Homo sapiens: one gene and its partners. The protein of the gene in region 1 binds, or shares a complex with, the protein of each later gene. Each region holds a gene or a part of one and is shown in the gene's direction. Other genes may lie near its edges.

The links.
Region 2: the proteins of TNFSF13B (region 1) and TNFRSF13C are in contact, whole or in part, in a crystal structure (PDB 1OQE), measured with the Homo sapiens proteins. Residues at the interface, in NP_006564.1 of Homo sapiens: Ser162, Tyr163, Asp203, Thr205, Tyr206, Ala207, Met208, Gly209, His210, Leu211, Thr228, Arg231, Cys232, Ile233, Pro264, Arg265, Glu266, Asn267, Ala268; in NP_443177.1 of Homo sapiens: Asp26 (codon at 4,263), Leu27 (codon at 4,266), Leu28 (codon at 4,269), Val29 (codon at 4,272), Arg30 (codon at 4,275), Val33 (codon at 4,284), Leu37 (codon at 4,296), Leu38 (codon at 4,299), Arg39 (codon at 4,302), Pro41 (codon at 4,308), Arg42 (codon at 4,311).
Region 3: the proteins of TNFSF13B (region 1) and TNFRSF17 are in contact, whole or in part, in a crystal structure (PDB 1OQD), measured with the Homo sapiens proteins. Residues at the interface, in NP_006564.1 of Homo sapiens: Ser162, Tyr163, Lys204, Thr205, Tyr206, Ala207, Met208, Gly209, His210, Arg231, Cys232, Ile233, Glu238, Pro264, Arg265, Glu266, Asn267; in NP_001183.2 of Homo sapiens: Tyr13 (codon at 4,070), Asp15 (codon at 4,076), Ser16 (codon at 4,079), Leu17 (codon at 4,082), Leu18 (codon at 4,085), His19 (codon at 4,088), Ile22 (codon at 4,097), Arg27 (codon at 4,112), Ser29 (codon at 4,118), Ser30 (codon at 4,121), Asn31 (codon at 4,124), Thr32 (codon at 4,127), Pro33 (codon at 4,130), Pro34 (codon at 4,133), Leu35 (codon at 4,136).

Annotation. Positions count from the first base shown.
Region 1 is NC_000013.11:108,286,707-108,293,812, forward strand, and holds part of TNFSF13B (tumor necrosis factor ligand superfamily member 13B), read left to right. Parts: intron 1-96; coding exon 97-153; intron 154-7,106. UniProt on the Homo sapiens protein: Cytokine that binds to TNFRSF13B/TACI and TNFRSF17/BCMA. TNFSF13/APRIL binds to the same 2 receptors. Together, they form a 2 ligands -2 receptors pathway involved in the stimulation of B- and T-cell function and the regulation of humoral immunity.
Region 2 is NC_000022.11:41,923,701-41,930,960, reverse strand, and holds the start of TNFRSF13C (tumor necrosis factor receptor superfamily member 13C), read left to right. Parts: upstream 1-4,154; 5' UTR 4,155-4,187; coding exon 4,188-4,323; intron 4,324-4,629; coding exon 4,630-4,860; intron 4,861-5,406; coding exon 5,407-5,594; 3' UTR 5,595-7,260. Other genes in the region: CENPM (centromere protein M), read left to right, coding at 2,027-2,157, 2,979-3,156. UniProt on the Homo sapiens protein: B-cell receptor specific for TNFSF13B/TALL1/BAFF/BLyS. Promotes the survival of mature B-cells and the B-cell response.
Region 3 is NC_000016.10:11,961,292-11,968,267, forward strand, and holds TNFRSF17 (tumor necrosis factor receptor superfamily member 17), read left to right. Parts: upstream 1-3,918; 5' UTR 3,919-4,033; coding exon 4,034-4,163; intron 4,164-4,903; coding exon 4,904-5,050; intron 5,051-6,278; coding exon 6,279-6,556; 3' UTR 6,557-6,777; downstream 6,778-6,976. UniProt on the Homo sapiens protein: Receptor for TNFSF13B/BLyS/BAFF and TNFSF13/APRIL. Promotes B-cell survival and plays a role in the regulation of humoral immunity. Activates NF-kappa-B and JNK.

The DNA of each region.
Region 1 (7,106 bases):
TTAGTGTTTCTGGAAGAGTGGGTTTCTAGCTTTGTGTTCTCAGTTTCTTTATTATTTCTACTCAAGTAACTAAAATGATAAATTTTTGCTTTTTAGTCACTCAAGACTGCTTGCAACTGATTGCAGACAGTGAAACACCAACTATACAAAAAGGTAATAAAATATAGCAAAGACTTGGAACCAAGCCAAATGTCCATCAATGATAGACTGGATTAAGAAAATGTGGCACATATACGCTATGGAATACTATGCAGCCATAAAAAATGATGAGTTCATGTCCTTTGTAGGGACATGGATGAAGCTGGAAACCATCATTCTCAGCAAGCTATCGCATGTTCTCACTCATAGGTGGGAACTGAACAATGAGAACACATGGATACAGGAAGGGGAACATCACACACCGGGGCCTGTTGTGGGGTGGGGGGAGGGGGGAGGGATAGCATTAGGAGATATACCTACTGTTAAATGACGAGTTAATGGGTGCAGCACACCAACATGGCACATGTATACATATGAAACTAACCTGCATGTTGTGCACATGTACCCTAAAACTTAAAGTATAATAAAAACAAATAAAATATCCCCAGTACTTTTTCCACTTAGAATTCAGTCCACTCCAAATATTTGTAAGTTTCAAGTCTAAAGACTGTATTTGAATTGCATGTAAAATCAATCAGCCATCTCAGAACTTCTTATAATCAGGTAAAAAATAATAAACCTACATTTATTCAAAATGACTTGGGAATAAATAATAATTAAGACCAAAGTAATAATCTAATAAGGAGAATGACCTTAGAGGCACGAATACTTAGAAATGTTAAATAATTAAACTACAATAAAATAAAAACCAATAATAAATCAAATTCCATTTTTATTATTTAGACAGCATTTTATCTTTAAGAATGACTCAAGACCATCTTCACAAATATGAATTCTCCTGTTATATTCAATTGTAAAAATCATAGAAAGAGGAAAATAAAACTGAACAGATTATTAAAAATCTGTATTTTTAAAATAAATTTCCAACATCAAATTATTGCTTGATAATTTACCGTTTTCTCACAGAGGTAGAATGTTTTACATTTTTCAGTTATTTGAAGCCTTTTTTAGTTTTAATTTTAGACAAGTTAAGTGTTTTCCATAATAATGGCCTGAAACCAGGTTTACAAAGAAACAACTTTTAATGTCATTTCCCAATATGTGTCACCTAGAATGTTAATCCAGAGAAATGGTCCTTGAAATAAGAGTTTCAGTGTCGTATAAGTTTGGAAACACAGCATCTTACATATTTTTCTTTGAGTCACAAGGCACATTAGCAAGTTATTGAATCTAAGTAGTCCTACTTTAAAAAATGTTTGTTTAACTTTGTTTCATCCAGTTTTTCACAAATTTTTGTGACTATGCTGCTTTATCATGTATCGACCTCTCTCTGAAAGCAAATGGGAATTGATGCTCTATAATAGCATTTGTTTATATAAGATAACTAGTGAACAAAAATGTACTAAAAAAGAACCATTCGTTCACTCACACATTCATTGATTCATTTAGTTTACATTTATTAATTAAGAATATACAATATTTTAATTACTGTATGTTTACTGGGTGTATCAGTGACTAAAATATGCACAAATGCTCCTTGGCTTACAATGGAGTTATGTCCTGATAAACCCATCCTAAGCTGAAAATAACGGGCCTTGAAAAAAGCAGTTAGGACATCTAACTTACCAAATATCATAGCTTAGTCTAGCCTACCATAAATGTGCTCAGAACACTTACATTAGTCTACAATTGGGCAAAATCATCTAACATGAAGCCCATTTTATAGTAAAGTATTGAGTAGCTCATGTTGTGTTTTGAATACTGGAATGAAGTATGATTTCTCCTGAATGTATGTGGCTTTCACACCTTTGTAAAGTTGAAGATTCTAAGCCAAACCATCGCAAGTCCATATGCATGGTTTTCTACTTTGAAAGAGCTTACCTCTTGATGAGGAGAAAACAAACGAAAGGCCCAACAACCCACAAATGAACAAGTAAAATGTAGATGAGACGAAATGCTGTGGAGGGCAGCAAAGCAGGCGGGGGCAGGAGAAAGTTTTGTGTTGTGAACGAACTACGAGTTCAGGAGTATCTGGAGGTTAGGCTAGGCGATGAGGAATGGGCAAAACAACACTAGCACAGATGATGAATGTGAGTTGGCACTGGTAATGATTCCCTGGCATGCTCTTTTCATCTGTGTTTTTTTCTGCGTGACTTTAATTGTCCTAAATGCAACACAAGTACTAAACTACTTGTAAATCTATTATTTATTGTTCAACATTTTCCTAAATCATGTTTGCAACTTTTAATAAGCAGCACACTGTTTCCTAAGAAGTAAAAGAAAGCCAGAAGATCTTAAGGGCCAAAGTTACAGTTTTTAAAAATTCTTTTGAAAAGGTTTACTTTACACATCTCTCCCCCACCCCCCAAAATGCTATAAATTGCACCAAATTATGCAGCTGCTATACTCCAATGTGCGTGTGAACTGGAGAGTATGCTGTGATCTTCCTGGAGTGGTGACTGCTTGCCACAGATCCAGGGGTGCTGAACTGGGGTGATTACCTGGGATGCTTGCTTGCAGTGCTCCAACCTTTAGGATGGACAGGTTGCCCTTGTGATGTCAGCAAACCCTTGACCAGTATATAAATGTGAGTGTGCATGGGCATTTAGCAGGCAGATTGCATTTAGCAGGTAGGTTGCATTTTGTTAAAAAAGGCTGTACTCACTAAAGCATTTTACTTGCACAGGTCCATAAGAAGACTTCTGGGAAAAGATAATAATATATTATTAATATTATTAGCATATTATATGTAATTATATATTATATAATATATAATGTATTATAATAATTATATATAATAATATATTATTATCTTCTGGGGAAAGAATTTATATATATAAATATTATTAGCATATTGTATATATTATCTTATTGTATTATACATAACATCAGGTCTTGAGATGAAATCATGTTATGTATTCCAGAGACATGGAGATTCAAAGGAGCGGGGCTACGTTCATCTGATATTTTGAGTTCCTATGCTTGCTCTGCCCCATACTTTTGTCCAGACAGTGAGGGCAGAGGTAAACTTCACAAAAGAGAAAAAGACAAGAGGGGTTTATCAGAGTGTAGTCTCATGTCTTTTCTGTTCATTTGTTTTTTTGAATTTTAATCTAGATTTTGAATAGGTAATGCATTCACACGTTGCAAAAAATAAAAAAGCATGAAGAGTGTGGATTGCTCCTTTTCCCATCTGTTCCTGCCCACACTCACCTCACTTTCAGTTTCCTACATAGACTTCAGACTCCCTCTATGTTAACACAAACAAATGCAAATGTAGCTCTGCTTCCCTCCTTTCTTATAGTAAACACTTAAAAACCATATTTTCAATACATATGATTTGAAAATGAGATTATAACCTGCATTCTTTACTTAACAATGTATATTGCAGACATTTTGATGCCTGTGTACAGAGATCCTCATATGAAAAAAAAAGCAGCATAGTATTCCATTGTATGAATTGAATGTATTTAACCAGTCTCCTACCAATAGACTTCTTGGTGTCCATCTTTTGCAATGCAGGTGCTTCGAAAAATAATTGTGTGCATCCGTAACTTCTCATATGTCAGCCTATGTGTGGGACAGATTTTGAATTTTGACAGTTATTGCTAAGTGGTCCTATAGGGGTTGTAAAGTGTTATGCTATCACTTGCAGCAAAAGAGCATCAGGTGAAAAATAGCATCTCTTAATTTGCTTTCTTTCAAGCCATTCTTTTGTATGTTTTAAGAACCATTTGTATTTCTGTCTTTACATTCTTCCAATTTTTCATGTCTATTTTTATTTTTTTCTGTGAGCCATCTGTTCATATTTTTTTCCATTTTTTCGTTGGACTTGGTCATTTTTAAACTGATTTCTGTGAGCACCTTATATCTCAAGCAGATTAATTCTTTATATTACTAATTGCAAGCATTTCCTCCCATACTGTCATTTGTCTTAATTTTGCATACTTTTTTTTTCTGTCAAATTTGTCAATTTTTTTAAAGGATTCTGGATTTGGGTTGTGATTAGAAAGACCTTTTACACTTAAACGTATTAAGGAAAGATCTCGTGTTCCTTCTGAAACCTTTATAGTTATTTTCTACCTTTAAATACTTTATCTATTTGCAATTTATCCTGGTATAAGATGTAAGGTATGAAACCAACTTAATTTTCCCCTGTGAGGGCATCACAGTCTTTTTTTAATCGCCCATCTTTTCCAGACTGCTTGAAGACATTAACTTTAACTTTTATTAAATTCCATGTTTAGTCTATGTTTTTTTCACTTTTTAAATACTTTTCTGTTATACCATATTGACTTAATGTCTATTTATGCACCCCAATAAAATGGCATTTTGGTTACTAGGGCTTTGTATTATTTTCTGGTAAATTTAATTCACTCATTTTTTCTTTTTACTTCTAGAATTTTTCTTTTTTTTCTATTAAATATAGGAACTGTAGAATCAGCTTACTTAGTTAAAAAGAAAAAGAAAAATACGTGCTATTTTTGTTGAATCTCATATTTATAAATTAAGAAAAATACCCTCATGATAACAGATGTACAGATCAAATCCAAGAACATGATATATATTTATATTTTTTTAGTCTCCTTTTTTTTCTTTTAGTATGTATTGAAATTTTCTTCAAGAAGTTCTTGCATATTTCTTATTAATATCATTACAAAGTGTTTTACCTTTTCAAATGCTATGATAAATAGAAACATTTTCTTTCATTATATTTTCCAGCTGGTTGTTCTTTTTGTGTATAAAAGCCTTGAATTCCATGATATATCTTTTCAATATTAAAGTTGAAATGTTTTCTTTTATTTTTGGATTGCATTTCCCTAGCATGACTTTGCCCAAAATTTTACTTTTAACTTCTCTGAAATAATTTTTCTGTGTTTCTCATGTATGCAAAACAGAGTTGCTCTTTGTTTTTTGATATCATCTTAAAATAATTTTCATTTATTGGGTGATATAAATCAATTTACATTTACTTATTTCAGAAATGTATTTGGCTTTTATTCATCATAATGTGCTATACTGTGTATTGTTTTTCATGTTAACAAAAGAGTTTCTATTTTATAGTTTTAAAGAGGTTGCTTACTATGTAGGCTATTTGCTTTGCTTTTTCTGTTAGCGTAGACTTCTAAATGCTAAATACTAGGGGTAGCTACCTTTTCAGTTATATCTTTTTATTGAAATTAAATTCATATAACATAAAATTAAATGCACAATTCATTGTAATGTAGTATTCACAATATTTTACAACCACCAACTCTCTCTAGCTCCAAAATATTTTCTTCAGCCCCAGAGAAAATCCTGTATCCATTAAGCAATCAGTTACCATTTCTCTGTCTCCCCATGCCCCTGTACCAGCAATCTGCTTTATGTCTCTGTGGATTCACCTATTTTAGATGGTTTATATAAAGGCAGTCACACAATACGTGACTTTTAGTGCCTGGCTTCTTTCACTTAGCATGATGTTTTGAGGTTCACCCACATTCTAGCATGTATTCATACTTCATGCCTCTGTATGAATGTATATCATTCTATTATAAGTAAGCCATAATTTCATTAAGGGTATTTGGTTTGTTTCCACCTTTTGGCTATTGTGAGTAGTGATCCTGTGAACATTTGCATAAAGTACTTCCTGAGTGCCTCTTTTCAATTATTTGGAGTATACATCGATGAATCGATGAGTAGAATTGCTGAGAAAATGTCAACCTGTTCTCTACAGTGCTGCAACATTTTGCCTTCCCCCCAGCAATGTACTAGTGTTCTAATTTTTCCACATCCTCACTGACACATCTTATTTTCAATGTTTTTATTAGTATTGCCTTCCTACTGGGTGTGAAGCCATATCTCTGTTATTTATTTGCATTTTCCTTATGACTGATGATGTTGAGCATCTTTTCATGTCCTTTTTGGTGTCTTCTTTGGAAAAATGTCTATTCAAGTACCTTGTCCATGTGTTTTAATTGGGTTGTTTGTCTTTTTGTTGTTGAGTTGTAAAACTTCCTTATATATTATGGATACAAGACCCTTATCAAATATCTGATTTGCAAGTATTTTCTCCTCTTTTGTGGATTATCTTTTTACTTTCTTGAGAATGTCATTTGAGGCACAAGAGTGTTGTACATCAGATAAATGAAGTAAAATTTATCTTTTTTTTGTTTCTTGTGATTTTAGTGTTATCATTGAAGAACTCATTGCCAAATTCAACATCATGATTCACCCATATGTTTTCTTCTAAGAGTCTTGTAGTTTTATGTCTTATATTTAGGTAATTAATCTATTTTAATTCATTTTTGTATATGGTGTGAAGCAGAGGTCCAAAATCATCTTTTAGCATGAGGATATCTAGTTGTCCCAACATCATTTGTTGAAGAAGATGATTTCTTCCACATTGAACGGTCTTGGCACACTTGTTAAAAATCAGTTGTACGTAGATGTATGGGTTTATTTCTGTACTCTCAAATTTATTTTGTTTCTTTATACACCTCGCCTTATGCTGGACCACTATACTATTTGGATTACTGTTATGTTATAGTAAATTTTGAAATTTAGGATAGTGAATCCTTCAATCTTGTTATTTATTTTTAAGATTGTTTTGGCTATTTGATACTCTTTTGCAATAACAAATGAATTGTAAGGCTGGCTTTTTCATTTTGGAGAACAAAAGGTCACTGAAATTTGTATATGGATTAGACTGAATCTGTACATAATACTGAGTATTACTGCCATCTTAAACTAAATCTATCAATCCATGAACACAAGATATCTTCTCTTTTATTTATATGTCCTATCATTTCTTATAGCAATCTTTTGTAGTGTTCAGTGTTAAAGTGTTTTATGTCCTTGGGTAAATTTACTTCTAGGTGTTATGTTCTTTTGAATGCTGTTTAGTCAGTTCAGTTTGCTATAACATATTACACTAGACTGAGTGGATTAAACAATAAAAATGTATTTCTCACACTTCTGGAGGCTGGAAAATTCAAGATTAAGGTGCCAACAGATTTGGTTTGTGA
Region 2 (7,260 bases), on another chromosome or scaffold:
GGTGGCTGAGGCACGAGAATCGCTTGAACCCAGGAGGTGGAGGTTGCAGTGAGCCAAGATCGTGCCATTGCATTCCAGCCTGGGCAACAGAGCGAGACTCCATCTCAAAAAAAAAAAAAAAAGACTTGAATAAAGAAATTAGGCCAGGAGTGGTGGCTCATGCCTGTAATCCCAGCACTTTGGGAGGCCAAAGTGGGCAGATCACCTGAGGTCAGGAGTTTGAGACTAGCCTCCCCAACATGGCGAAACCCCACCTCTCCTAAAAATACAAAAAATTAGCCGGGCCTGGTGGCAGGTGCCTGTAATCCCACGTACTCAGGAGGCTGAGGCAGGAGAATCGCTTGAACCTGGGAGTTGGGTGTTGCAGTGAGCTGAGTTGGGTGTTGCTTATCGCACTGCTGTATTCCAGCCTGGGCGATAAGAGTGAAACTCCATCTCAAAAAAAAAGAAAAGAAATTAGGCCAGGCGTGTTGGCCAAGGTGGGTGGATCACTTGAGGTCAGGAGTTCAAGACCAGCCTGGCTAGCATGGTGAAACCCCATTTCTACTAAAAATACAAAAAAATTTAGCCAGGCATGGTGGCCCGTGCCTGTAGTCCCAGCTACGTGGGAGGCTGAGGCAGGAGAATGGCTTGAACCCAGGAGGCAGAGGCTGCAGTGAGCCGAGATCACGCCACTGCACTCCAGCCTGGGTGACAGAGCCAGACTCCGTCTCAAAAAAAAAAGGGACGCGGTGGCTCACGTCTGTAATCCCATCACTTTGGGAGGGCGAGGCGGGCAGATCTCGAGGTGAGGAGATCAAGACCATCCTGGCTAACGGTGAAACCCCGTCTCTACTAAAAATACAAAAAATTTGCCGGGCATGGTGGCGGGCGCCTGTAGTCCCAGCTACTCGGGAGGCTGAGGCAGGAGAATGGCGTGAACCTGGGAGGCGGAGCTTGCAGTGAGCGGAGATTGCGCCACTGCACTCCAGCCTGGGCGACAGAGAGAGACTCCGTCTCAAAAAAAAAAAAAAAAAAAAAAAAAAGCCACGGGGAAATAAGAATACATTGAGGAGTAAACTAACATTCCCCACATTGGTCTGATTGTGAATTCTTCTTAACTGTTTTGTCATCCAAGTAGCGACACAGGGCCTGCTGCAGCCCCCCACCCCCACCCCATTTAGGAGGCCCAAGTGGAAAGGTTCATGTGAGGCCAGGCACCTGCACACAACACAGACACGAATCCCGCAGGCCTTTTGTCCCGGCACCTGGCCCAGCACATAGGGAGCGCCCAGCAAACATTTGTGTCACATGAGTGGGTGTCTCATTTGTGTCTGCTGCTCTTAGCAGCTGGCCTCCCTCTCTGGCCAAGGTAAGGGACCCTGGAACTCTGACAGTGGGCTCCAGCCCTCCCACTCTCTCTGGCCTTGAGAGCAGTCTCCTCGAGTCTCTGCTGGGGGTCAGAGCAGCCAGTGCTTCTGCTGTGAAACGCAGACCTGGGGCAGGCGGACCCCCTCCTCCTAACTCCTGTAAATTCTCCCGACTCTGGCCTCACTGGGCCACCCTCTCCAGGGACAGGTTCCCCGTTCCTGGGTTCCCACAAGCCTCAGTCTGCCCACATGGCTGGCACAAGGGCTAAATGAGCTGCCTGGTACTCAGTCAGGCCTCTGCAGCCCTCACTAATGGGTAATACCAGCACCAACATGGATGGACGTGTATGTGGGTGGCAGGGTTATGGCTCAGTCTTCTGGCTTTGTCCCCACCTCTCTGCCTCACAGAGAGGCCTTCCCTGCCCTGGCTCCCCTCCAGGGTCCTGTCCCCCATCCCTGTACCGTACACCCACGCTCACCCACACCTGCCCCCACCCCCACATCACCATACACCCACGCTCACCCACACCTGCCCCCAGCCCCACTTCTCCTTTGCAGCTCCCCTCCGCCCACACCTTCCTGCCTGGGAGCTGCTGGCCCATGTACAGGGGATGGAGAGGGTGGGCCAGCGCCCACCAGTCAGGGCTGGCTGACTGGGGTTCTTTGTGAACCTTCAGGGTCTCCCAAGCTGGAAACCTGGGGGTCGGCCTTGCTCCCCTCACTCCATGGCCAGCCGCTGCATCATCCCCTGCCCTGGGCCACCTGCCCTGGACGTGGGCCACAGTGCCAGAGAGAGGGACCCTTGCAGGTACAGCTCAGAATCTCCCTCCTACCCAGACACCCCCAGGTTCTGTACTGCCCCGGGACTGGTGCCCTGCCCATCCGCAGCCCGGATGCTCCCTCCTCCCTCCCAGCATCCCCTGTGGCAGTGGCCATGCCTGCCCCCAGAGCAGCTCAGGCTCCCCTTTCATCTCTCCAAGCCTTAGCCCCTGCAGCCCTCCGCCTGGAGTGTTTGCCTCCCCCTCGCTGCTGCTCAGGGTCTCCCTCTGCCCCCAGGCTCCCTCCCCAGCCCCTGAGTTTCTCCTCTCACTGTGCTTCCCCAGCCCTGAGTGCTTAGGGGTCTGGGTGGCATGTGTGGCATTTAACCCCATGCTCTCTGCTGAGCCCTGAGCTCCCAGAGTTCCCTCCAGCCCTGGCCCTGGGGAGGGGGTAGCATGTGACCAGGAGGGCGGAGGGGCTTGTGTGTGTTTCTGAGACGCAGTCTGAGAGAGACACGGGTGACAGACAGTTGGGGACCCCAAACACTGGGGAGCAGAGATAGACAGGAGGGGCCCGCAGTGAGACACAGAGGTGAGCAGGAGAGGACACATAGCCCTGGAGAAAAGGAGCAGGTGTGGGCGGGCTTCCCTCCACTGCAGTCACAGTTCCCTCACTCATAGGCAGATCTTCCTGGGTCCTCCCTGCACAAAGCCCCAGTGGCTCCCTCGTGTCCCCCAGCCACAGTCCAAGCTCCCTAATGTGCTAGATAAGGCCCCAGTCCAGCCTTTCGGTCCCAGCACTCCCTGGACTTCCTGTTTGGGCCTCCAAGCCTTTGCTCCCCTTTGGCCTTCACCCCCATCTGCTCCCTAGACCTCAGTCCATCTGGCAAACACTTCACCATCGCCCTCTCCATGAAGCCTTCCGGCCCACCTTCCAGGATGACGTGAGCTGGTGCCCTTGCTGCGAGGCTGTCTTCCCCCATCAGCACAAGTGTGAGATTCCCTCAGGGCAGACCCACATGCTACTTGGGCCTGGTACAAGTGTCTGATGTCAGGCTGGGCACTGTGGCTTCACACCTATAATCCCAGCACTTTGGGAGGCCGAGGAGGGCGGATCACCTGAGGTCAGGAGTTCGAGACCAGCCTGGCCAAATGGTGAAACCCCACCTCTACTAAAAATACAAAAATTAGCCGGGCATGGTGGTGCATGCCTGTAATCCCAGTTACTCGGGAGGCTGAGGCAGGAGAATCGCTTGAATCTGGGAGGCAGAGGTTGCAGTGAGCCGAGATTGCACCACTGCACAGAGCCAGACTCTTTTTCAAAAAAAAAAAAAAAAAAAGCAGGTGTCTGATATCCCCAACCAGCTCTGTCCAGGAAGGGCAGGAAGAGAGGAGGAGACAGGTGGGTTGGGGGAGATGGCAGGGGAGCACTCGGGGTCATGGAGAGGCTTTGGCTAGACGGAGCAGAGGAACCACTCAGGGTCTGTGTCCTGGCTGCGGGGTCCATCCCCCTCCCTACCCAAGAGGAGGCTCTGGTCTGCCCCCAGACACCTCCCAGCACCCAGCAGAGGGCCCACCCAGGCGGTGCTGGTTGAGGGGCTGAATTGGGGAACCACAGGTAGAAAGAGAGGCCAGGCCGGGTGCGGTGGCTCACGCCTGTAATCCTAGCACTTTGGGAGGCCGAGGCAGGTGGATCACGAGGTCAGGAGTTCAAAACCAGTCTGACCAAGATGGTGAAACCCCGTCTCTACTAAAAATACAAAAATTAGCCGGGCGTGGCAGTGGGCGCCTACAATCTCAGCTACTCGGGAGGCTGAGGCAGAGAATTGTTTGAACCCGGGAGGCAGAGCTTGCAGTGAGCCGAGATAGCGCCATTGCACTCCAGCCTGGGCGACAGAGCGAGACTCCGTCTCAAAAAAAAAAAAAGAAAAGAAAGGGGGGCCCCAGGCGAGCTCGGTCCCACCCAGCAGGCGGGGGCGGGGCAGGGCAGAGTGCTCCCCCCGCCCCCCGCTTCCTCCCCGAGGGCCCCGGAGCCCAGCTCAGCCTCAGTCCCCGCAGCTTGTGCGGCGGCGTCGGCACCATGAGGCGAGGGCCCCGGAGCCTGCGGGGCAGGGACGCGCCAGCCCCCACGCCCTGCGTCCCGGCCGAGTGCTTCGACCTGCTGGTCCGCCACTGCGTGGCCTGCGGGCTCCTGCGCACGCCGCGGCCGAAACCGGGTAAGGGGGACCCACGGGGCGCGCGGCGCCGGCAGCTGCGGGGAGAACGGGGCCCCGATCGCCAGGGCGCAGGCAGAGCCCCGACCCCCGGGGGCGCCGAGGGCTGAAAGGACCCTGTGGGCAGGGCCTGGAGGGGCCCGCGATCACCGCGTGGCCCTCACCGCCGCCTCTCTCCCTCCCCTTGTCCACCGCCCCCCGGCTGTCCCTCCCCTCCCCGGCCAGCCTCGCCCCCCTCCGCCCCTCCCCGTCCCCGCTCCTCCCTCCCCTCGGCCCCCTGGCCTCCCTCCCTGTCCCCTCCCGAAGCAGCCGGGGCCAGCAGCCCTGCGCCCAGGACGGCGCTGCAGCCGCAGGAGTCGGTGGGCGCGGGGGCCGGCGAGGCGGCGCTGCCCCTGCCCGGGCTGCTCTTTGGCGCCCCCGCGCTGCTGGGCCTGGCACTGGTCCTGGCGCTGGTCCTGGTGGGTCTGGTGAGCTGGAGGCGGCGACAGCGGCGGCTTCGCGGCGCGTCCTCCGCAGAGGCCCCCGACGGAGACAAGGACGGTGAGTTCCGTGTGTAGGGGAACCAGTCTGAGCGGGGCGCAGGGGCTGGGGTGTCGGGACGGTCTAGGGGGAGATGCATGGCCCCTGAGGGGGAGAGAAGGGCTTTAAGGGGAAACGGAGACAGAGTGGAAAAGAGTTTGCGCTGAGGAGCTCAGGCTGGGGAGGGAGACATAGTCCTGCCCCTGAGACCCTGGTCGGAGCCAGGAACAGCTCTGCCCTGACAGACCCCAGTGTGAGGAAGAGACAGGTTGCAGGAAGGGGGCCCCGTCTGAGGGAGGAGTCTGTCCTGCCCTTTGGGAGTCTAACGGAGCTTGGTTCCCCCATAAATCCCTGAAGAGTTTGCCAGACTGAGCCCCAGCTCCCCAACTCCCTGCCCTGCCAGCTCCCCACTGGCCAGGCCTCTGGACTCAGGGTCAGCCAGGTGCCACCCCTCCCCACCCTGCATTGGGCTTCATTTGACGGAGGACTGCCCCTCCAGAGGAGTCTTCTAGGGGAGGGAGGGAAGGCTGTGACTGAGTACGGAGCCTCTACCCCCTCTGCCTGCAGCCCCAGAGCCCCTGGACAAGGTCATCATTCTGTCTCCGGGAATCTCTGATGCCACAGCTCCTGCCTGGCCTCCTCCTGGGGAAGACCCAGGAACCACCCCACCTGGCCACAGTGTCCCTGTGCCAGCCACAGAGCTGGGCTCCACTGAACTGGTGACCACCAAGACGGCCGGCCCTGAGCAACAATAGCAGGGAGCCGGCAGGAGGTGGCCCCTGCCCTCCCTCTGGACCCCCAGCCAGGGGCTTGGAAATCAAATTCAGCTCTTCACTCCAGCATGCACATGCCCTCTTTCTGGGACCAGGCTAACTCTGCAGAAGCACAGACACTACAGACCACAGCATTCAGCCCCCATGGAGTTTGGTGTGCTTGCCTTTGGCTTCAGACCTCACCATCTTTGACAGCCCTTGAAGGTGGTAGCCCAGCTCCTGTTCCTGTGCCTTCAAAAGGCTGGGGCACTATGAGTAAAAGACCGCTTTTAAAATGGGGAAGGCACCATTAAGCCAAAATGAATCTGAAAAAAGACCAAGTGGGAGGATGCCTAATTTGTAGTTGGGTGGTTTTTTGTGTTTGTTTGATTTTTTTTTTTTTTTTTTTTTTTTTTTTTTGAGACGAGTCTTGCTCTGTCGCCAGGCTGGAGTACAGTGGCGCGATCTCGCCTCACTGTAACCTCCGACTCCTTGGTTCAAGTGATTCTCCTGCCTCAGCCTCCCGAATAGCTGGGATTACAGGCACGCACCACCACAGCCAGCTAATTTTTGTATTTTTAGTAGAGACGGGATTTCACCATGTTGGCCAGGATGGTCTCGATCTCCTGACCTCGTGATCCGCCCTGCTCGGCCTCCCAAAGTGCTGGGATTACAGGCATGAGCCACCATGCCCGGCCTTGTTTTGTGTTTTGGTTTTTTTTGAGACAGGGTCTTGCTGTATCACGCAGGCTGGAGTGCAACGATGGGTCCCCAGCTAATTGCAGCCTGGGCTCAAGCAATCTTTCTGCTTCAGCCTCCTGAGTAGGTGGGACTACAGGTGCTCCACCTTGCCCAGCTAATTTTTTTTTTTTTTTTTTTTTTGAGACAGAGTCTCGCTCTGTCGCCTAGGCTGGAGTGCAGTGACGCAATTTCGGCTCACTTCAAGCTCCGCCTCCTGGGTTCACACCATTCTCCTGCCTGAGCCTCCTGAGTAGCTGGGACTATAGGCGCCCGCCATCACGCCCGGCTAATTTTTTTTGTATTTTTAGTAGAGACGGGGTGTCACCGTATTAGCCAGGATGGTCTCGATCTCCTGACCTCGTGATCCGCCCGCCTCAGCCTCCCAAAGTGCTAGGATTACAGGCGTGAGCCACCGTGGCTGGCCTTTTTTTTTTTTTAAAGACAGGGTCTCGGTATGTTGCCCAGGCCAGTCTCAAACTCCTGGCCTCAGGCAGTCCTCCCCGAAGGGCTGGGATTATAGGCAGGAGGCGCCGGGCCTGGCCTCTATTTCTTTAATACCTGCCCTCAGAGCCGTCCTGCTTTTAAACTGATGCAAATGGCAGCAGTGAATAATCAATTCATGGGTTCGCTTGCTTTGGGATTTAGTACAAGATTATTTTAAGAAATAACAAAGGAGAAAAGATTGAGCTGGATTTTGCTGATTCTCAGGTATCTGTACCCCAGGGTCAACCCTGAGATTGGCCCAATCTGCCAGAACCTAAGATGCCATTTTGACCCCAGTGGCAGCTTCCAGAGCCACAAGCCTGCATTTGGGAGGAGGTGCGCAGCCTCCAGGGCTGGACTCCAAACTCGAGCTGAAGGAACATGCTGGCAGGTAGCTCTCTCAGGGTCCACCTGGGGTTCCAGCTGCTCCAAGACACAGCACATT
Region 3 (6,976 bases), on another chromosome or scaffold:
TTCTCCCTGTCCTGCCTAGGCAGCCTCTCCCACTTACCTCACCACCTGGACCCCAGAGGAATTTGACGTTTTGATCAATATCTAAGTTCAAAATCTTTCCTAGGCTCAAGTCCTGCATTTAAAAAAAAAAGTATTTTTTTAAATTTCTGCATTTTATTTTCATGATTTTAGCATTTATTATGGACTACTTTAAAAATACAAAAAGAGGCCAGGCGCAGTGGCTCACGCCTATAATCCTAGCACTTTGGGAGGCCGAGGCGGGCGAATCACTTGAGGTCAGGAGTTCGAGACCAGCCTGGCCAACATACTGAAACCCCGTCTCTACTAAAAATACAAAAATTAGCCAGGCCTGGAGGCACGCACCTGTAATCCCAGCTACTAGGGAGGCTGAGGCAAGAGAATGGCTTGAACCTGGGAGACGGAGGTTGCAGTGAGCTGAAATTTTGCCACCACACTCCAGCCTGGGTGACAGAGTGAGACCCTGTTTAAAAAAAAAAAAAAAAAAGGTATGAGCAGTTGTATAATATGCTCTATCTGCCTCCTGGGTGGATACAAATAAAATAGGTAGGGTCTGAATAGACAGACATAAACAGAGGCTCTATTTGGAAAGACAGAAGACTGACAGTGGCTGGGCACTGTGGCTTACACATGTAATCTCAGTACTTTGGGAGGCTGAGGCAGGAAGATCACTTGAGCCCAGGAGTTCAAGACCAGCCTGGGCAACATGATGAAATCTCATCTCTACAAAAAATACAAAAATTAGCTGGGCATGGTGGCATGTGCGTAGTCCTAGCTACTCAGGAGGCTGAGGTGGGAGGATCGCTTAAGCCCAGAAGGTGGAGGCTGCAGTGAGCCCTGATGGTGCCACTGCACTCCAGCCTGGGCAATAGAGCAACACCCTGTCTTAAAAAAAAAAAAAAAAAAAAAGGCTGGGTGCGGTGGCTTGCACCTGTAATCCCAGCACTTTGGGAGGCCGAGGCGGGTCGATCACGAGGTGAGGGGATTGAGACCATTCTGCCCAACATGGTGAAACCCTGTCTCTACTAAAAATACAAATATTAGCTGGGCATGGTGGCGCATGCCTGTAATCCCGGATCATGAGGTCAGGAGATCGAGACCATCCTGGCTAAGATGGTGAAACCCCATCTCTACTAAAAATACAAAAACAAAATTAGCCAGACATGGTGGTGGGTGCCTGTAGTCCCAGCTACTCTGGAGGCTGAGGCAGGAGAATGGCATGAACCTGGGAGTCGGAGCTTGCAGTGAGCTGAGATAGCGCCCCTGCACTCCAGCCTGGGTGACAGAGCAAGATTCTGTCTCAAAAAAAAAAAAAAAAAACCAAAAAAAAAGAGGAAGACTGACAGTAATTACTGCCTCTGGCAAGAGAGAGGAAATCCAGGGTAGGAAAAAGACTTACTTTTCATTGAAAAATCTTTGGCACTGTTTGAATACTTATTTTTTAATAATATGAATTTTAAAAACAAGAATTATCAGTGGCTGGGCGCGGTGGCTCACACCTGTAATCTCAGCACTTTGGGAGGCCAAGGCAGGTGGATCACGAGGTCAGGAGACTGAGACCATTCTGCCCAATATGGTGAAATCCTGTCTGTACTAAAAATACAAATATTTGCTGGGCATGATGGCGCATGCCTGTAATCCCAGCTATTCCGGAAGCTGAGGCAGGAGAATCACTTGAACCCGGGAGGCAGAGGTTGCAGATCGCACTACTGTACCCCAGCCTGGCAACAGAGGGAGACTCCATCTCAAAACAAACAAACAAACAAACAAACAAATAAATAAAAAATCATCCAGGCTAGGTGGCTCATGCCTGTAATCCCAGCAGTTTGAGAGGCCAAGGCCGGTGGGTCACCTGAGGTCAGGAGTTCGAAACCAGCCTGACCAACACGGTGAAACCCCGTCTCTACCAAAAATACAAAAACTAGCCAGGCGTGGTGGCATGCACCTGTCATCCCAGCTACTCAGGAGGCTGAGGCCAGAGAATCGCTTGAACCTGGGAGGTGGAGGTTGCAGTGAGCCGAGATCGCGCCATTGCACTCCAGCCTGGGCAATAACAGTGAAACTCCAGCTCAAAAAAAAAAAAAAAAAGAATAAGTTTTTAAAGGTTGGGGTGCTTGGAGGATGAAATAAAGTAGAAGGGATGGCAGGTTTCCTTGGCACACTCCTTGGGCCTTAAGAAAGTGTAAAGAATAAGAAAAATACAACAAAAGGAAAACAACAAATATCAATGTATCCACCACTCAGCTTAATAAAGAAAATATAATAAACACAGGTGAAGCCTTTTTTGTGCTCCCCTTCTTCCCCACCACTTACCTCAGAGATAATCACTATACTGAATTAGGAGTTTGCCATTTCCTCAAATTTTAATTGAGTCCTGCATTTTTGACAAACATCTGGACGTCTCTATATGGGTATTTCACTCAGTATGGTTAAAAGCAAATTCAAGCTGGGCTTAGTGGCTCACACCTGTAATCCCAGCGCTTTGGGAGGCCGAGGTGGGTGGATCACTTGACCCCAAGTGTTTGAGAGCAACCTGGGCAACACGGCAAAAACCCATCTCTACAAAAAATACAAAACTTACCAGGCGTGCTGGCGCATGTCTGTAGTCCCAGCTACTTGGAAGGCTGAGGTGGGCAGATCACCTGAACCCAGGAGGTGGAGGCTGCAGTGAGCTGTGATTGTGTCACTGCACTCAGCCTGGGAGACAGAGTGAGACTCTGTCAAAAAAAAAAAAAAAGGCAAATTCAAGTGATCCATTTATGTAAACAGAAAAATGCACTATATAAATGTATCTATCTAGAATTCAGGGATCGGTGAAACAAAAGACATCGCATCGGCAGGTCTGTTTGCAACTTCTGGGATACACCAGGTGTTAGCGGTGATGACTTCTGGATGCTTGGACTGTGGATTTTTAAAATGGTTTTATCTGCTCATCTGTATTTCTAAATTTTCAACAATGGAACATAGATTATTGTATTATTATTATAATACCCCAAACCTATCTTCCTCTCAGCCCTCTTTCCACGAGCTCTTACCCTAAATGTCTCTTTTTCTGTCAGTGGCATTGTGCGTCTTCCTTAGTGCATCACCTCTGATCTTCCTGTAGAATTTTTTTTTTTTTTGAGATAGAGTCTTGCTTTGTCACCCAGGCTGGAGCGCAGTGGCCTGATCTTGGCTTACTGCAAACTCCGCCTCCTGGGTTCAAGCACGTCTCCCTGCCTCAGCCTCCTGAGTAGCTGGGATCATAGGTGCCTGCCACCATGCCTGACTAATTTTTGTATTTTTAGTAGAGACGGGGTTTCACCATGTTGGCCAGGCTGTTCTGGAACTCCTGACCTCAAGTGATCCACCTGCCTCGGCCTCCCAAAGTGCTGGGATTACAGGAGAGCGCCACGGCGCCCAGCTTACACCAGACTACTTTTTAAAATGTTTTTGTAAAGTCAGGGTTTCGCCATGTTGCCCAGGCTGATTTTGAACTCCTGGGCTCAAGCAATCCTTTTGCCTTTTGACTCCCAAAGTCCTGGGATTACAGGTGTGAACCCCTGCAGCTGGCCTCAATGTTAAGATCTTAAGGGGCACAGCACAGACCTTGTCTTGTCTATCTCCCTGGCACCTCTCACAGAGTACAGCTTATTAACAGATGTTCCAGAAACTGTTACTGAACATTCGGCTTGATGCTGTGGGCTTGTCTGCATCTTGCAACTGTCACCTGGCTGAGAAATTTCTTCTATAAATAAGCAGTTTCTGTTTCAGATGTGATATGCCCTGATATTTACACCCTGTCTCTTACCCCATCCAAGACTCAAACTTAGAAACTTGAATTAGATGTGGTATTCAAATCCTTAGCTGCCGCGAAGACACAGACAGCCCCCGTAAGAACCCACGAAGCAGGCGAAGTTCATTGTTCTCAACATTCTAGCTGCTCTTGCTGCATTTGCTCTGGAATTCTTGTAGAGATATTACTTGTCCTTCCAGGCTGTTCTTTCTGTAGCTCCCTTGTTTTCTTTTTGTGATCATGTTGCAGATGGCTGGGCAGTGCTCCCAAAATGAATATTTTGACAGTTTGTTGCATGCTTGCATACCTTGTCAACTTCGATGTTCTTCTAATACTCCTCCTCTAACATGTCAGCGTTATTGTAATGCAAGTAAGTAATATTGCTTGAACGATTATTCATTGGTGTGAACTATTCTGTCTATATGGACTGCTTATTCAGAGAATCAACATAATGGGCATGATGGTGAGTTTTCTTGAATCAAAAAGAGAAAGGAAGCAAGGCAGTGATTTTAATGTTTATGGAAACAAAGTAATTATTTGGAACTGAACTTGATATGATTCAGCACTATTAGCAACATAGATTTTTTTTAAAAATCAGCTCTTCTAATTAAGTGATATTTAGAATTTAAAAGTCAATGTTCATTAATTAAGGTGATTGAATGGAAATAATCCATACTTGATTATTTTGCTATCAAAACAATCCATAATTCATTATTTTAGCAAAATAATCAAGTATGACAGCCGGGTGCGGTGGATGGCTCACACCTGTAATCCCAGCACTTTGGGAGGCCGAGGTGGGTGAATCACCTGAGGTCGGCAGTTTGAGGCCAGCCTGGCCAACCTGGTGAAACCCTGTCTCTACTAAAAATACAAAAAATTAGCTGGGCATGGTGGCACAGGTCTGTAATCCCAGCTACTCGGGAGGCTGAGGCAGGAGAATTGTTTGAACTTGGGAGGTGGAGGTTGCAGTGAGCCGAGATCGCGCCACTGCACTCTAGCCTGGGCAACAGAGCAAGACTTTGTCTCAAAATAAATAAATAAATAATAACAATAAAGTATGTGAATATTATGTTATCAGCTCATTATCTGTCTGATGTTCTTTTCATAAAGGTGTGACCAATTCAGTGAAAGGAACGAATGCGATTCTCTGGACCTGTTTGGGACTGAGCTTAATAATTTCTTTGGCAGTTTTCGTGCTAATGTTTTTGCTAAGGAAGATAAACTCTGAACCATTAAAGGACGAGTTTAAAAACACAGGTTGGTTTGATGGTGAATCTTTGAAATCTATTTCCAGGGGATGGCTATTGTGAGTTTCAGTTCCTTTTCTTTTTTTAGCGTTGACTATTTCACTTCGTTACAGCCCTTTCGAATGTGTTAGAACATTGTTACATTAAATGAACTTGGTAGAGGTGAGCCATCTTCATTCTGATTTTGACACCTTGGCAGATTTTCTACAATGTCAGTCTTCTCCAGGATTCTTCCACTGTTAATTACTCTATTGAAAGTACTAAGGCTTTCTTGGGAAACATCAGTCTCTTTGACTAAAGTTAGCACATCGATTAAATGCCACATTATCAGAAACTCCTAGCCAGGTCTGCTACTGTCAGGAAAAGCATATTTGTCAAGATCTATGGTCATGTTTTTATACAAATATAGGTGTTCTTTGCTTGAGTGAACATTTTACTACTGAAAAATGTTAGAAATGAATAACCAGTTGCTCCTGAATTATTTGAGGAATCATCTAAAAAATAATTATTTTTAAGCAATAGAGAACCAGTCCCAGAAAAATGAATGTTCTACTTAAGTGCCTCTTAAGATAAAAATACTTCTGCAGCACCTTTGCTCATGATTGGATTCCCAAGCATGTACAGCCACTGCCCTATTTCTGTATGCATTTATTTATTTATTTATTTATTTATTTATTTATTTATTTAGAGATGGAGTCTCGCTCTGTGGCCCAGGCTGGAGTGCAGTGGCGTGATCTCAACTCACTGCAGCCTCTGCCTCTTGGGTTCAAACAATTCTCCCATCTCAGCCTCCTGAGTAACTGGGACTATAGGTATGTGCCATCACCTCCGACTAATTTTTGTACTTTTTGGTAGAGACAGGGTTTCATCATGTTGGCCAGGATGGTCTCAAGCTCCTGACCACAAGTGATCTGCCCGCCTCAGCTTCCCAAAGTGCTGGGATTACAGGCGTGAGCCACAGGGCCCAGCACATACTCATTCTTTTTTACTGAAAAGATCTGTTTCAAGCTGGGTGTGGTGGCATGGAGCTGTAGTCCCGACTGCTCTGTAGGCTAACGTGGGAGGATTGCTTGAGCCCAGGAGTTTGAATGCAGCCTGGGCAACACAGTAAGACCCCACCTCTAAAAAATGAAAAAATCTCTCTCACATTGCTTTGAGTCCCGATGTGTACTGCTAAGACTCTCATGACCACATTCTCTGTGAAGTTTGGGTTAATGTTTCCGTTTCTACATAATTAGGATCAGGTCTCCTGGGCATGGCTAACATTGACCTGGAAAAGAGCAGGACTGGTGATGAAATTATTCTTCCGAGAGGCCTCGAGTACACGGTGGAAGAATGCACCTGTGAAGACTGCATCAAGAGCAAACCGAAGGTCGACTCTGACCATTGCTTTCCACTCCCAGCTATGGAGGAAGGCGCAACCATTCTTGTCACCACGAAAACGAATGACTATTGCAAGAGCCTGCCAGCTGCTTTGAGTGCTACGGAGATAGAGAAATCAATTTCTGCTAGGTAATTAACCATTTCGACTCGAGCAGTGCCACTTTAAAAATCTTTTGTCAGAATAGATGATGTGTCAGATCTCTTTAGGATGACTGTATTTTTCAGTTGCCGATACAGCTTTTTGTCCTCTAACTGTGGAAACTCTTTATGTTAGATATATTTCTCTAGGTTACTGTTGGGAGCTTAATGGTAGAAACTTCCTTGGTTTCATGATTAAACTCTTTTTTTTCCTGACATCTAAGTTTTTATTAACGTGAGTTTTTAAAAACAAGCATGTATACCAGTGTGGGGGGTGAGGGTGGGAGAGAAAGGTGGGAGGGGGAAAGAATTCTAACCTATTGATAATAAAGCTCCAGTTTTGGCCAGGCGCGGTGGCTCATGCCTGTAATCCCAGCACTTTGAAAGGCCGAGGCGGGCAGATTACCTGAGGTCA